4 linked regions of the Homo sapiens genome follow. The protein of the gene in region 2 purifies or fractionates together with the protein of the main gene of each other region. This does not show direct contact. Each region holds a gene or a part of one and is shown on either strand. Other genes may lie near its edges.

Region 1 (3,130 bases), on a different chromosome or scaffold from region 2:
ACTTACTTGTTGTATGTTGGACCATGTGGAAAGGATACACTTAAGATGTATGGAAAGGTTGTTGAAAGGGAAGAATCTATAATAATTTCAATATTCTGTCTTGCGTATCTTAATGATTAGTGATGTCATTCACTGTCTTAGAGAATGTAGCAAAGGAAGATATCTAAGGGAGTGAGCATTGTGAGGTCAATGTTCAACAGGTTGAGTTTGAGGAACATGTAAGAGTAGGGGTTCAGCTGGGGTGCCTATAGGAGCCTAAGGTTTGGGGCATAGTTTAGGAATTAAAAATATAAATTAATGATTCAGCATGATGAAAATAATGTAAAACAATGTATTAATGACGTGTTACAGGTCAAGATGAAAGTATATCAGCACGCAAAGCATACAAAATACCTCCCCTTATGACAGTTATATTTTAGAAAGGGTTATAATCTGTGAGACTGGGTAAAATCACCTAGGGTCAGTAGAAGAAATAATATATATGTAGTATTAAGCCATTCTTGCATTTCTATAAAGAAAAACCTGAGACTGGGTAATTTATAAAAGAAAGAGATTTAATTGGCTAAGTGTTCTGCAGCCTTTATAGGAAACATGGTGTTGACATCCGCTTGGCTTCTGAGGAGACCTCAGGAAGCTTAGAATCATGGCGGAAGGTGAAGGCAGAGTAGGCACATCACATGGTGAAAGCAGGAGCAAGAGAGAGAGAGAGTGGGATGGAGGTGCCACATACTTTTAAACCACCAGATCTTGTGTGAACTCAGAGCAAGAGCTCACCTATCATCAAGGGGATGGCCCAAGCGATCCATGAGGTATCTGCCTCCATGATCCAGACATCTCCCACCTGGCCCCACCTCCAACAGTGGGGATTACAATTCAACATGCGATTTGGGCAGTGACAAATATCCAAACTATATCATTCATCTATATATATACACACACACACACACACACACTCACACACATGAATGATATACATACATATATGTATAACGTATATATAATTATATTATACATATATATGAATTATATACATTAGGCTGAAAGTAGAAACCTGTAGAGCATCAGCATATCTGTGGTGCTTCATAAAAAGAGCTCACAGAAGATTGACCAGGGAGGAAGGAAAGCTAGCAGCTGAGAGAATAATATTTGCATTGATTAAGAGCAGTAAGAAGTCCAGGGACACAAGGCTGGAAACACGGTTAGCATTATCAATTTTCTCAGTTTCATAGTAGTGATGTAGGCATAAATAGATTTCAGTGGGATGCAGAATGAATGGGAATTGTGACTATCAATATTGAATCCAAATTGCTTTTCAAGAAGCTTGGCTGAGTGGTGAGGAAAGAAAGAAGGTGTTGATTTCATGGAGAGCACAGTCTTAAGGGGAAAGTTTTTAGTAAGAGAGAGATTTTATCATATTGTAGTTTGAGAAAACTAAAGTCAGTAGAGAGAAAGCTGTTGATGAAACAGAGACAGAGGATGATGGTCACATGGTATCAAGTGTTATGAAGAGAAGCTGCAGAAACAGTCATCCTCATGGACTGTGAAACTCCTATGTGTCAGAACTGTGGGTTAGGGGTGAAAGTTGTGATGAGTAGAATGGAAAGAACAAGACGCTATCAAGGAAGACTATACTGGCTTCAGAAAACGATGGCTTGGGCCTCAGAGGTGGAGATGTTTTTGTGCAAGGATAGAGGAGCAATAATTTAGAACTGGTGATGGTGAGCTAGAGGGAAGCCTTCTGCCTTACCCTTCCACTACAGAGAACGTCAGCGGGAACTTCAAGGGAAATCAGGCTTCACTCAGGCAATGTGAATAGTAGAGGAAGCATTTGGGGGAGGTGGGGAAAAGCATGCCAAAGAGTTAGGTATTTATGTGTTTGTCATCTAAAAGGCAGAGTTGGCAGACTTTGGAGAGAAGTGAGCAGCTGGCTGATGCATCAGTAGAAGTAGCACCAAATTTTCAAGCAGTTAAGGAGGTAGAAATTCAGGAGACAGAAATTAATTGGAGTGGCTTGCTTATTGAAGTTAGCAACAATAGCAGGCTTCTAAGATTCAGAGTTCCACAATGTAAATAGGACATTGACGTGGAGGTTGATATTTTGGTGTCTGTGGAGTGAAACCAGGCTTGGTTCTGTTTGATATTTCTAGGAGACTGGGCTTGATTTTTACCAATTCCTTATAATAACATTTTATAAGTTATGTAGATATTTTATTATCTCATCTGTTTTCATATCAACACTAAGAAACTGTCTCACGTGTCCATGTGAACGGAGGCCTGACAGAAACCCTCTAGGTATAGATGTTATCATCACTTTTTTTGGAAAAGTAGAAACTAAAGCCTAAAATAATCTGAGATCATATAGTGAATGACAGAATTGGAAGCCAAGTCTGACTCCAGGTTTGGTTTACCTCTTTTAATGATATTGGTCTGTAGTGAGTTTGAGATGGACAAGAGCTTATGAGTGGAATCAATCCAAATCCCTGACTACTAACAGGAAAACAACAAGGCTTATACTTTTCATTTTCAACACACTATGCTACATTATTCATTATGCTTATAGAGTGTCCTCATTTATACCTTAAATCACTGATGCTTCCTTATTCAGAATTACAGATAGACAGGAGTGATACAATATACAGTGAAAGTGTATGATGGTACTCACCTGCATTTATTATATTTCATTACACAGAGGATATTCTACCTTATTGTAGACCTACTTTTCCAACATCAAATAATCCCAGAGATCCCAGTTCCTCAAGCTCAATGTCATCAAGAGGATCAGGAAGCAGACAAAGAGAACAAGCAAATGTAGGTCGAAGAAATATTGCAGAAATGCAGGTACTTGGAGGATATGAAAGAGGAGAAGATAATAATGAAGAATTAGAGGTATCTATAATTTTTCCCCAAGTTTACCAATGTTAGACTGTGGTTGTTTTATGTAGTTAGGAACCTTCATCAGTGTACAGAAATGTTACTGTTTTATTGCAAACTTTTCAGTACTCTAATGTCTATGATGGCAGAAACTGAAGTTCTGAGAATTTGAGAATTTTCTTGAAATGTGTCCCAAAGTTTTAAATGTTAATGGCAGTTTATTTGTTTAGCTAGGGTTTATCTTCATTTGCAGATTTTC
Region 2 (4,069 bases):
CAGGGGATCGGGGCTGCCGTGAGTTGTGATGATGCCACTGCACTCTGGCCTGGGTGACAGAATGAGACCCTGTCTCAAAAAAAAAAAAAAAGAAAGAAAAAGAAAGCTAATGAACTTAGAAATAGTTTCTAAGGCCAGAGTGGTGGCTCGCACCTGTAATCCCAGCACTTTGAGAGGCGGAGGCAGGTGGATCACAAGGTCAGGCGTTTGAGACCAGCCTGGCCAACATAGTGAACCCCGTCTCTACTAAAAATACAAAAATTAGCTGTGCGTGGTGGTGGGCGCCTGTAATCCCAGCCACTCAGGAGGCTGAGGCAAGAGAATTGCTTGAACCTGGGAAGTGGAGGTTGCAGTGAGCCGAGATTGCGCTACTGCACTCCAGCCCAGGCGACAGAGCAAGACTCTGTCTCAAAAAAAAAGAAAGAAAGAAAGAAAGAAAGAAAAGCAATAAAGTTTCTAGGCTGGCGCAGTGGCTCATGCCTGTAATTCCAGCACTTTGGGAAGCCGAGGCAGGCAGATCACCTGAGGTCAGGAGTTAGAGACCAGCTTGACCAACATGGCGAAACCCCATTTCTACTAAAAATACAAAAATTAGCTGGGCATGGTGGCACGTGCCTGTAGTCCCAGCTACTTGGGAGGCTGAGACTGAGGCATGAGAATTGCTTGAGCCCAGGAGACAGAGGTTGCAGTGATCACGCCACCGCACTCCAGCCTGGGTGACAGAGCAAGACTCCATCTCAAAAAAAAAAAAAAGAAAAAAGATATGAACAAGGATTTCAAGCAATAACTCTGGATCACAGTCTCTGGTTCTGGGCCCTGAGATTGCAGAGGCACGATGGAGAGTCCAGTGATGTCCAAGGCCACATGGAGTTGAGATGAAGCCTTCGACCCGCCACATTCACAGCAGTTATGGGGCCGTCCCTGCACACCGGCGTGGGCATATGCTGCAGAAATTTCCAGAGATACCGCATTCTGCACATCTCATGCCGGCTTCGCATTTCCTCCCCAGAAATTCCCTGTGGCCGCTGGCCTTGAACTCCTGGAAGTCACCCGCTCCTTGGTGGTATGGTCGTGTCTGTCAACCCTGGGCTTCAAAATTTTGTCTAGTCAAATCAACAGGCTCCTTCCAAGAAGAATGGCAAAGATGCATTCATGTGCCTTCTTGTGAAGTATGTGTGTGTCTGAGTCAGGCATCTGCCCACCTGGAGGGTAACCTCAGCATTTCCATTCAGCCCTTTCACTCAGCCGTGGCCAGTAGAACTTTTGAGTGTTTTCTGGAGAAAAGCTGAGTAAATGGTTTTGCCATGGGCGGGACGCTGACTGCTCTTTCTCCTCACCCTGGCCCTTTATATACCTCCAGGCAGCCATGGCGAACACATCTGGCTCCAGAAGCCCCCACTGAAGCTGGCCTTGCTCTCTCTCGCCATGGCCTCTCACTCAGGTATCACTGGTCCTGGTGCTTCCGGAGTCTTGGGCATCATCTTATCTCACCAGGAAGATTCTGGAAGCACTACCCCCAGGGTTGGCTCAGCAGGGCTGCAGGGATGGAGCCAGGGTGGGCAGGGGTGTGTGATGTATGCGCTCACGGCATCGTTCTCTCTCCAGGCCCCTCGACGTCTGTGCTCTTTCTGTTCTGCTGCCTGGGAGGCTGGCTGGCCTCCCACACGTTGCCCGTCCGTTTACTACGACCAAGTGATGATGTACAGAAAATAGTCGAGGAATTACAGTCCCTCTCGAAGATGCTTTTGAAAGATGTGAGTGTCCTAGAGATTTCTTTTCTAAACGATTTCTTAAAAATGCCTTCCATTGCCCTCCAAAGAGGCTCCTCTCTCCGGACCTGAAACCAGGGCTGTAGCTATGCCAGGAAGGGATGGGGGAAACTAGACAGGCAAAGATGGCTTTTTTTTTTTTTTTGAGACAGAGTCTTACTCTGTCACCCAGGCTGGAGTGCAGTGGTGCAATCTTGGCTCACTGCAACCTCTGCTTCCTGGGTTCAAGCGATTCTCCTGCCTCAGCCTCCCGAGTAGCTGGGACTACAGGCATGCGCCACCACGCCCAGCTAATTTTCATATTTTTAGTAGAGACAGAGTTTCTCCACGTTGGCCAGGCTGGTCTTGAACTCCTGACCTCAAGTGATCCGCCTGCCTTGGCCTCCCAAAGTGCTGGGATTACAGGCGTGAGCCACTGTGCCCAGCCAAGATAGCTTTGATCAAACAAACAAATGCCCAAACTTGGAAACAATTCATAAAATTGGCATTACTCTTCTCATCTGCCTTGGTATTTAGACCTTAGCCTTGGCTTTTATAAAAGGCAGAGGTTGTTACCAACCCAAGATGACTGGGCAGTTCAGGTTGATGAGGTGCTGCTGGCAATTTGGTCTGACTCTAGTTAGTACTTAGAAAGAGGAAGGGAGGGAGTGGTCCGGACTCCTTGGTTTGTTGGGGAAAACTCTCGCCTGCATCTCGGAGGCCTTTCCGGACAAGCCTAACACTCTCCTTTATAAGTGGAGCGTGCGTGGCTTTAACACAGAGTCCCAAAGGGCGGGGAGCTGCCATGGAAGGCCAGATGTGCTGCAATTCCCACCACCCTGAGCACGTGAGAGTGGGTTCTGGAAGGCTGGGAGGCCTCAGCTGGATGGATCAGTGGTTCTGAGCACAGGCTTCAGGACTGCAGCCACCTAAGCTCTAGTTTCATCTGGAAATGGGGTTGGTGATGGCACAGCCTCATAGGGTTGTGACATTGATCAGATAAATATATCAACGAGGCGGGTTACGGAGGAAGCATGCAAACATTCACTGTTAAGACTTGCAGCTGTCATTGCAAACCCAACACTGACCATTTCTCCTCATTCCACAGGTGGAGGAAGAGAAGGGCGTGCTCGTGTCCCAGAATTACACGCTGCCGTGTCTCAGCCCTGACGCCCAGCCGCCAAACAACATCCACAGCCCAGCCATCCGGGCATATCTCAAGACAATCAGACAGCTAGACAACAAATCTGTTATTGATGAGATCATAGAGCACCTCGACAAACTCATATTTCAAGATGCACCAGAAACAAACATTTCTGTGCCAACAGACACCCATGAATGTAAACGCTTCATCCTGACTATTTCTCAACAGTTTTCAGAGTGCATGGACCTCGCACTAAAATCATTGACCTCTGGAGCCCAACAGGCCACCACTTAAGGCCATCTCTTCCTTTCGGATTGGCAGGAACTTAAGGAGCCTTAAAAAGATGACCGACAGCTAAGTGTGGGAACTCTGCCGTGATTCCTTAAGTACATTTTTCCAATGAATAATCTCAGGGACCCCTCATATGGGCTAGTCCCGGGAGGGCTGAGATGTGAATTTGTGAATTACCTTGAAAAACATTAGGTTATTGTTATTAGTCTTGGTATTTATGGAATGCTTTTCTTCTGCAGGCTTAAGTCTTACTTATTATACCCTCGTGAGGGTGGGAGGTGGCAGCTATGTTAATTTATTGATATTTATTGTACTAAGAGTTGTCAATGCTCCCTGGGGGAGCCCTCGGAATCTATTTAATAAATTATATTGAATTTTTCTCATAATCTGTGACACATTTTGTGAGGGGCTTGACATTGGCAAATGGGACTCCAAGCTGGGTAGAGTTGTGGCAGAGGGCAGATGGACATGCTCTAGAAAGAGGTATCGCTTCTACCACTGTCATTTCTTCCCACTGGACGGGCTCAATAAAAAATAATGACCCTGAGCCAGGCACTGTGGCTCACACCTGCAATCCCAGCACTTTGGGAGATAAAGGCAGGAGGATCACTTGAGCCCAGGAGTTCCAGACCAGCCTGGGCAACATAGTGAGACCCCATCTCTATTTAAAAAAAAGAAAGAGAAAAGAAATAATGACCCTGGTGGTACACGGTGGCTAGTTTCGTCTGGAAATGGCGATGGTGATGGCCACAGCCTCATAGGGTTGTAACACAGATCAGATATCCCAGCACTTTGGGAAGCTAAGGCTGGAGGACTGCTTGGGGCCAGAGTTTCGGACCAGCCTGGGCAACATAGCAAGATCCCATCTCTAAAAAAACCAACCCAA
Region 3 (3,500 bases), on a different chromosome or scaffold from region 2:
CCGAGGAAAAGATTTTAATACGAAAGATACATAGATGTTAAGCTGTTGGTACTGACCAAGAGTGATTACAAGTGCATTCAGAGCAGAACCAGTGGGGCAGTAGCAGTCTCAGACTCAGGACAACATATTAACAGTGTGCATATCCATCCAGTAGATCCATGTTGTCTGTATGCCTAAATCACAAGGTCTTAATTAACCGTGTAAACGAGATTTACGTAGTCTCTGTCTAACATCTTAGCACCTAGATGTTTTGAAACCGCTCAGTCTTGCATAAAGCAGTGGAACTAAATGTGTTCTTTAAAATTCCTTGTTGCTGTGAGAACCCAAAAGAGCCAGCATAATTAGCTTTAGTGTTTAGTCAAAGGCTAATGGGAAGAAATGGATTATGATTTTCCATCAGATTAGTTCAGGCAGATATATTCCTTTGTAAACCAAAAGAAAAAAAAAAGAAATTATGATGCTGTTCTAAAAACTGTGCTGTAAATATTTGGCTTTAGAGAGGCAAGAGTGGTTGCCCATTGTAAATAGGGCACTGGACTTTAACTTTACGTATTTGGATTCAGTTTCAGGCACCACTGTGGACATTTTGTTATCAACCAGTAGATCTTTGCCTTAGTTTTTTTCTTTACCATTGTGTTTTCTTTTCTTTCTTTTTGGAGACAGAGTCTGGCTCTGTTGCCCAGGCTGGAGTGCAGTGGGGTGATCTCAGCTCACTCCAACCTCTGCCTCCTGGGTTCAAGCAATTCTCCTGCCTCAGCCTCCCAAGTAGCTGGGATTACAGGCACGTGCCACCACACCCAGCTAATTTTTGTATTTTTAGTAGAGACGGGGTTTCACCATGTTGGCCAGGCTGGTCACGAACTTGACCTCAAGTGATCGACCTGCCTGGCCTCTCAAAGTGCTGGGATTACAGGTATGAGCCACCATGCCTGACCTGTTCCTGTATTTTCTAATTCTCTTTATACTTAGGTTCTCTATCACACCTGAATGCACCAACACTTATAGTTAAAATTTAGAAAGTGCACTCAAGTCTAACATGTTGGAAGACTGGATTGTAATTTGAGTCAACCTGTTATTTTGTACTTGGTTCAAAGTCAGTCAATACTATTTTTTATATCTATGGCACATTTATGTTACTAGTACTGCAGTAGATTTTTAACAACTTCGTGTCTTAGGGGAGATACTCTGTTAATTTCAAATAGGTCATTGTACAGAATGCTTCACAAAAAATGTTAAATGCTTTCCACTACTGATTTGATGGATGATGAATCTTTGATGTAAAACTTCAAAATAGAATTAAGATCTTCCTCCCTTCACCTCTGTTAAAATTTTGTAAATTAACCCTGGGATTTCTCTGAGATTTATGATACATACATAGTGTATATTTATTTTCATGAGTTTGATCTTAAAATTGTACTCAGGTTGTCCTTAGCTTTAAAAAGCAGTGTTAGAATAATGAAGCACAAAAGTTAAAATAGCAGCATGGAAGTTTTAGAAAAATAGTCCATTTACTTTTTTTTTTAATCAGAAATCATTTTTAGCTTCCCTTCTCCCCCGCTCCGCCCCCCCCTCAACCTCTCCCATTTTCTCAATTAGCCTGTGCTGTCCTTTAGGATTAGAACCTTAATCCAATTTGGAGGATGACTTTTTTTTTCGTTTTTCTGAAATTAAGGGGAGACCTGAGTAATAGGGGCTGGGGCTAAAGACAGTCAGGTTGTCAGAGGGGACTCCTTTCTTCTCAGGCTGGAATCCTCACCAACCTAAGTGGGGGTTAGGGGTATGTGCAGACTGGCAGCCTTAGATTTGTCATGTAAGGCTTTAGGACCCTGCACCTGTGGGGTCACAGTTTTCTTCTCTCAGTTCTAAAACAAGACTTTAGTATTTTATTCCAGACCTATTTGTGTAATCATGAATTTAAAGAACATTTTCATATTGATGGCTAGTAGTTAAAATTCACATTTATTATACTTTATGCTAGCCTTAGGCATATAGCCTATAATTTATATTAACTATTGACAGTTTATACCCTTTTGGTAAAGATCAGATGTGAGAATAATCTGCCTTGGCAGGTTAAAACAAAACACTTTTATTTTGACACTTAACTTTCCAGTTTATTTTTATGGGTAGTTCTGGGGTGGAAAATAATATTTACAAAATAATAAAAGCCATGATTTGGAGACCTGACCCAAGAAGCTTCAACATCCTTAGGTTGCTTGCCTGTGCCACTGTGCCGTGACACATTCCCTACTGAACATAGGCTAGTGTGGGATTGCTCCACCCAGAGGCCCTTCCCCAGAGCAGGGAGGACATGGAGTGTTTGTGAAGGTTTTTCTCTCCTTAACAAGTAGGTTAGTTTTCAACAGTTTAAGTACTGGAGTAGGTGCTGACTGTTAATATACAAAAGCAAAAAAATACATATATACAGTAATGGGTAGTTAATTATGTTCAGCTTCATTTTCTGTAAGCTGTTGATAGTTTCTCCTAGAATATTCTGTCTTCCTCTTATCAAGGCAACTGGGATTCATATAAAGGAGCTTCTTATGTATATGGGACTTAGAAACTAGTTAAAAGTGTGAAAAGAGGTTTTAAAAAATATTTTCAAACAAATGCATCTATCTGTACTTCTTAGGTGAGCTAATGAACTAAACCATCTTGAAAAATTTATCTTAGTATTACACAAAATGCATTTGTATGAGATCTGAATTGGTTGGAATTCATTGAAGAACTTACATATTTGAATCAGATTATTTCATAAGCTGTGGTGGTACAAATTTTTCATTGAAGAGAATTTTAAGCATGTGTCCGAAGGTCAGAGGGGAGGAATGCCTGCAGATCCGTGTGAGGGATGAGGGCTGAATACACAGGGTAGATCAGAATTGCACTGGAACCTGGTTATACCTCCTAACCCAGTCAAGCACCTGTGGTCTTTTAAATTTCTTTCTTTATAATCTTGTGTATGTTGGTCAAAGAAGGGTTTGATTAGTCAAAATAGGAACAGCCACTGTGGGCTCCAGAGATACTGTGAAACGAGTGGCAAAACAACCTCCCCGCCAAGTAGACGAAAATAATAAACAAGATACCTGTTTGGTAGTTTAGGGAAGAGATTCCCTCTTTGAGGAAATAAGTCTTGACTTTTCCCTCAGTATTCTTAGCCTAGTTCCTTGCTTGGTGTTCAGTGATTGAACTATATCTTATCCCCACCCCCAACCTCTCAATCTGTTAAAAGGCCCTTTACACAAACTCTGCAAATTATGCCATGATAACTTTAAATCTCAGATTTTAAAACTAAGTGTATGCTCCGAGTCGTAAGGTATTGCATCTGAATGAGATCTGAGAGGTAGCTCATTCATTTTACAGTAGAGGCAACCAAGACACAAAGATCATTCTGGAAATCACATCACCAGCTAGTGGCAGAGTTGAGTTGCAGAGGGAAGCCCCAGTCTTCTGTGAGTGTTGCGCATTGTCTCCCACATGGTTTGTCTCCTAAATAAAACCCCAAA
Region 4 (3,500 bases), on a different chromosome or scaffold from region 2:
TTCTCATAATTTAGCTCTCACTTGTAAGTGAAAACATATGGTATTTGGTTTTCTATTCTTGGTTTAGTTTGCTAAGGATAACAGCCTCCAGCTCCATCCATGTTCCTGCAAAAGACATGATCTCATTCTTTTTATGGCTGCATAGTATTCCATGGTGTATATGTACCACATTTTATGGCTGCATAGTATCCCATGATGTATATGTACCATATTTTCTTTATCAAATTGCTAATTGATGGGCATTCAGGTTGATTCCATGTCTTTGCTATTGTGAATAGTGCTGCATTGAACATCTGTGTGCATGTGTCTTTACGGTAGAATGATTTACACTCCTCTGAGTATATACTCAGTAATGGTATTGCTAGGTTAAATAGTAGTTCTGCTTTTAGCTCTTTGAGGAATCACCATACTGTCTTCCATAATGGTTGAACTAATTTTCACTCCCACCAACAGTGTATAGGTGTTCCCTTTTCTCCATAACCTTGGCATCATCTGTTATTTTTTGACCTTTTAGTAATAGTCATTCTGACTGGATAGAGATGGTATCTCATTGTGGTTTTGATTTGCATTACTCTAATAATCAGTGATATGGAGCTTTTTTTCATGTGCTTATTGGCTGCATGGATGTCTTCTTTTGAAAAGTGTCTGTTTATGTCATTTGCCCACTTTTTAATGGGGTTGTTTGTTTTTCTCTTGTATATTTATTGAAGTTCCTTATGGATCCTGGATATTAGACCTTTGTCACATGCAGAGTTTTCAAAAATTTTCTCCCATTCTGTAGGTTGTCTTTTTACTCTGTCGATAGTTTCTTTATGCTGTGCAGAAGCTCTTAAGTTTAAATCTCAGTTGTCAATTTTTGCTTTTGTTTCAATTGCTTTTGGTGTCTTTGTAATGAAATCTTGGCCCATTCCTACATCCAGGTTGCTATTGCCTGTGTTGTCCTCCAGGTTTTTTATAGTTTTGGGTTTTATGTTTAAATATTTACTCCATCTTTAGTTGATTTTTGTGTATGGTGTAAAGAAGGGGTCCAGTTTCAATCTTCTGCATATGGCTAGCCAGTTATTCCAGCACCACTTATTGAATAGGGAGTCCTTTCCTTATTGCTTGTTTTTATCAGCTTTGTCAAAAGTCAGATGGTTATAGGTGTGCAGCCTTATTTCTGGGCTCTCTGTTCTGTTCCATTGGTCTATGTGCCTGTTTTTGTACCAGTACCATGCTGTTTTGGTTATGTAGCCCTGTAGTATTGTTTGAAGTAAGGTAGTGTGATGCCTCCAGTTTTGTTTTTTTTGCTTAGGATTGTCTTGGCTATTCAGGCTCTTTTTCATTTCATATGAATTTTAAAATAGTTTTGTCTAGTTCTGTGAAGAATGTCGTTGTTAATTTGATAGGAATAGCATTGAATCTGTAAATTACTTTGAGCAATATGACCATTTAAATGATACTGATTCTTCCTATCCATGAGCATGGGATGTTTTTCCACTTGTTTGTGTCTTCTCTGATTTCTTTATTTGAGTTTTGTAATTCTCGTCATAGAACTCTTTCACCTCCCTGGTTGGCTGTATTCCTAGGTATTTTATTCTTTTTGCGGCAGTTGTGAATAGGATTGCCTTTCTGATTTGACTCTAGGTTTGGCTGTTGTTGGAGTATAGGAATGCTAGTGATTTTTGTACATTGATTTGTATCCTGAAACTTTGCTGAAGATGTTTACCAGCTAAAGGAGCTTTGGGCCGAAACTATGGGGTTTTCTAGATATAGAATCATGTCAATTGCAAACAGGGACAGTTTGGCTTCCTCTCTTTTTATTTGAATGTGCTTTATTTCTTTCTCTTGCCTAATTGCTTCAGCTAGGACTTCCAATACTGTGTTGAATAGAAGTGGTGAGAAAGGGCATCCTTGTCTTGTGCCAATTTTCAAAGGGAATACCTAGTTTATTGAGAGTTTTTTTTAACATAAAGGGGTGTTGAATTTTATTGAAAGCTTTTTCTGTATCTATTCAGGTAATCATGCAGTTTTTGTCTTTAGTTCTGTTTATGTGAAGAATCACATTTATTAATTTGCTTATGTTGTACCAACCTTGCTACCTGGGGTTGAAGAATACTTGATTGAGGTGGATTAGCTTTTTGATGTGCTGCTGGATTCAGTTTGCAAATATTTTGTAATTTTTGCATCACTGTTAATCAAGGATGTTGAACTGAAGTTTTTTTGTTGTTGTGGCTCTGCCAGGTTTTAGTATCAGGATGATGCTGGCCTCATAGAATGAGTTTGGGAGGAGTCCTTCCTCCTCAGTTTTTTGGAATTGTTTCTGTAGGAATGATACCAGCTGTTTGTACATCTGGTAGAATTCAGCTGTGAATCCATCAGGTCCTGGCCTTTTTTTAGTTGGGAGCCTAATTTATTACTGATTCAATTTTGGAGCTCATTATTGGTCTATTCAAGGAATCAATTTCTTTCTGGTTCAGTCTTAGGAGGGTGTATGTGTCCAGGAATTTATCCATCTCTTCTAGGTTTTCTAGTTTGTGTGCATAGAGGTTTCTGTAGTAGTTTCTGTTGGTTATTTTTACTTCTGTGGGGTCAGTGGTAATGATGACACCCTTCATCATTTCTAATTGTGGTTTTTGGGGTTTTCTCTCTATTAGCCTAGCTAGTAGCTTACCTATCTTGTTAAATTTTTTTTTAAAATCCATTCTTGGATTTGTTTATCTTTTGAATGGATTTTCTTGTCTCTGTCTCCTTCATTTCAGCTCTGATTTTGGTTATGTTTTGTCTCCTGCTATCTTTGCAGTTGATTTGTTCTTGCTTCTCTAATTCTTTCCGTTGTGATGTTAGGTTGTTAATTTGAGATCTTTCTGACTTTTTGATGTGGGCATTTAGCGCTATGAATTTCCCTCTTAACACTGCCTTAGCTGTGTCCCAGATATTCTGGTATGTTGTATCTTTGTTTTCATTAGTTTCAAAGAACTTCTTGATTTCTGCCTTTATTTCATGATTTATCTAAAAGTCATTCAGGAGTATGTCATTTAATTTCCGTGTAATTGCATTCTTTTGAGCAAGTTTCTTAGTCTTCTGTTTTTATTGCACTGTGGTTTGAGAGTGTGTTTAATACGGTTTTGGTTCTTTTGCATTTGCTGAGGATAGTTTAATGTTCAATTATGTGATCAATTTTAGAGTATGTGCCATGTGGCAAGGAGAAGAATGTATATTCTGTTGTTTGGGGGTAGAAAGTTCTGTAGAGATCTATCAGATCCATTTGGTTCACTGTTTAGTTTGGGTCCTGAATATCTTTGTTAATTTTCTGCCTCAGTGATCTGTCTAATACTGTCAATGGAGTGTTGAAGTCTTCAACTATTAATGTGGGTGAGTCTGTGTCTCTTTTTAGGTCTCTAAGAACTCGCTTTATGAATCTGGGTCCTCCTGTGTTGGGTGCATATATATTTAGGATAGTTAAGTCTTGTTGAATTGAACCCTTTGCCATTATGTATTGCCCTTTTTTTGTGTTTTTT

What was found. The genes of interacting proteins can lie anywhere in the genome.
Region 1: the proteins of IL31 (region 2) and ROBO1 purify together in Homo sapiens (affinity purification with mass spectrometry; one large-scale study listed by BioGRID and IntAct). This does not show direct contact.
Region 3: the proteins of IL31 (region 2) and MAN1A1 purify together in Homo sapiens (affinity purification with mass spectrometry; one large-scale study listed by BioGRID and IntAct). This does not show direct contact.
Region 4: the proteins of IL31 (region 2) and DNAJC1 purify together in Homo sapiens (affinity purification with mass spectrometry; one large-scale study listed by BioGRID and IntAct). This does not show direct contact.

The regions. Positions count from the first base shown.
Region 1 is NC_000003.12:78,599,869-78,602,998, reverse strand, and holds part of ROBO1 (roundabout homolog 1 isoform a precursor), read left to right. Parts: intron 1-2,689; coding exon 2,690-2,886; intron 2,887-3,130. UniProt on the Homo sapiens protein: Receptor for SLIT1 and SLIT2 that mediates cellular responses to molecular guidance cues in cellular migration, including axonal navigation at the ventral midline of the neural tube and projection of axons to different regions during neuronal development.
Region 2 is NC_000012.12:122,171,529-122,175,597, reverse strand, and holds IL31 (interleukin-31 precursor), read left to right. Parts: upstream 1-1,376; 5' UTR 1,377-1,425; coding exon 1,426-1,441; intron 1,442-1,605; coding exon 1,606-1,754; intron 1,755-2,856; coding exon 2,857-3,186; 3' UTR 3,187-3,569; downstream 3,570-4,069. UniProt on the Homo sapiens protein: Activates STAT3 and possibly STAT1 and STAT5 through the IL31 heterodimeric receptor composed of IL31RA and OSMR. May function in skin immunity. Enhances myeloid progenitor cell survival in vitro.
Region 3 is NC_000006.12:119,343,262-119,346,761, reverse strand, and holds part of MAN1A1 (mannosyl-oligosaccharide 1,2-alpha-mannosidase IA), read left to right. Parts: intron 1-3,500. UniProt on the Homo sapiens protein: Involved in the maturation of Asn-linked oligosaccharides. Progressively trim alpha-1,2-linked mannose residues from Man(9)GlcNAc(2) to produce Man(5)GlcNAc(2).
Region 4 is NC_000010.11:21,885,231-21,888,730, reverse strand, and holds part of DNAJC1 (dnaJ homolog subfamily C member 1 precursor), read left to right. Parts: intron 1-3,500. UniProt on the Homo sapiens protein: May modulate protein synthesis.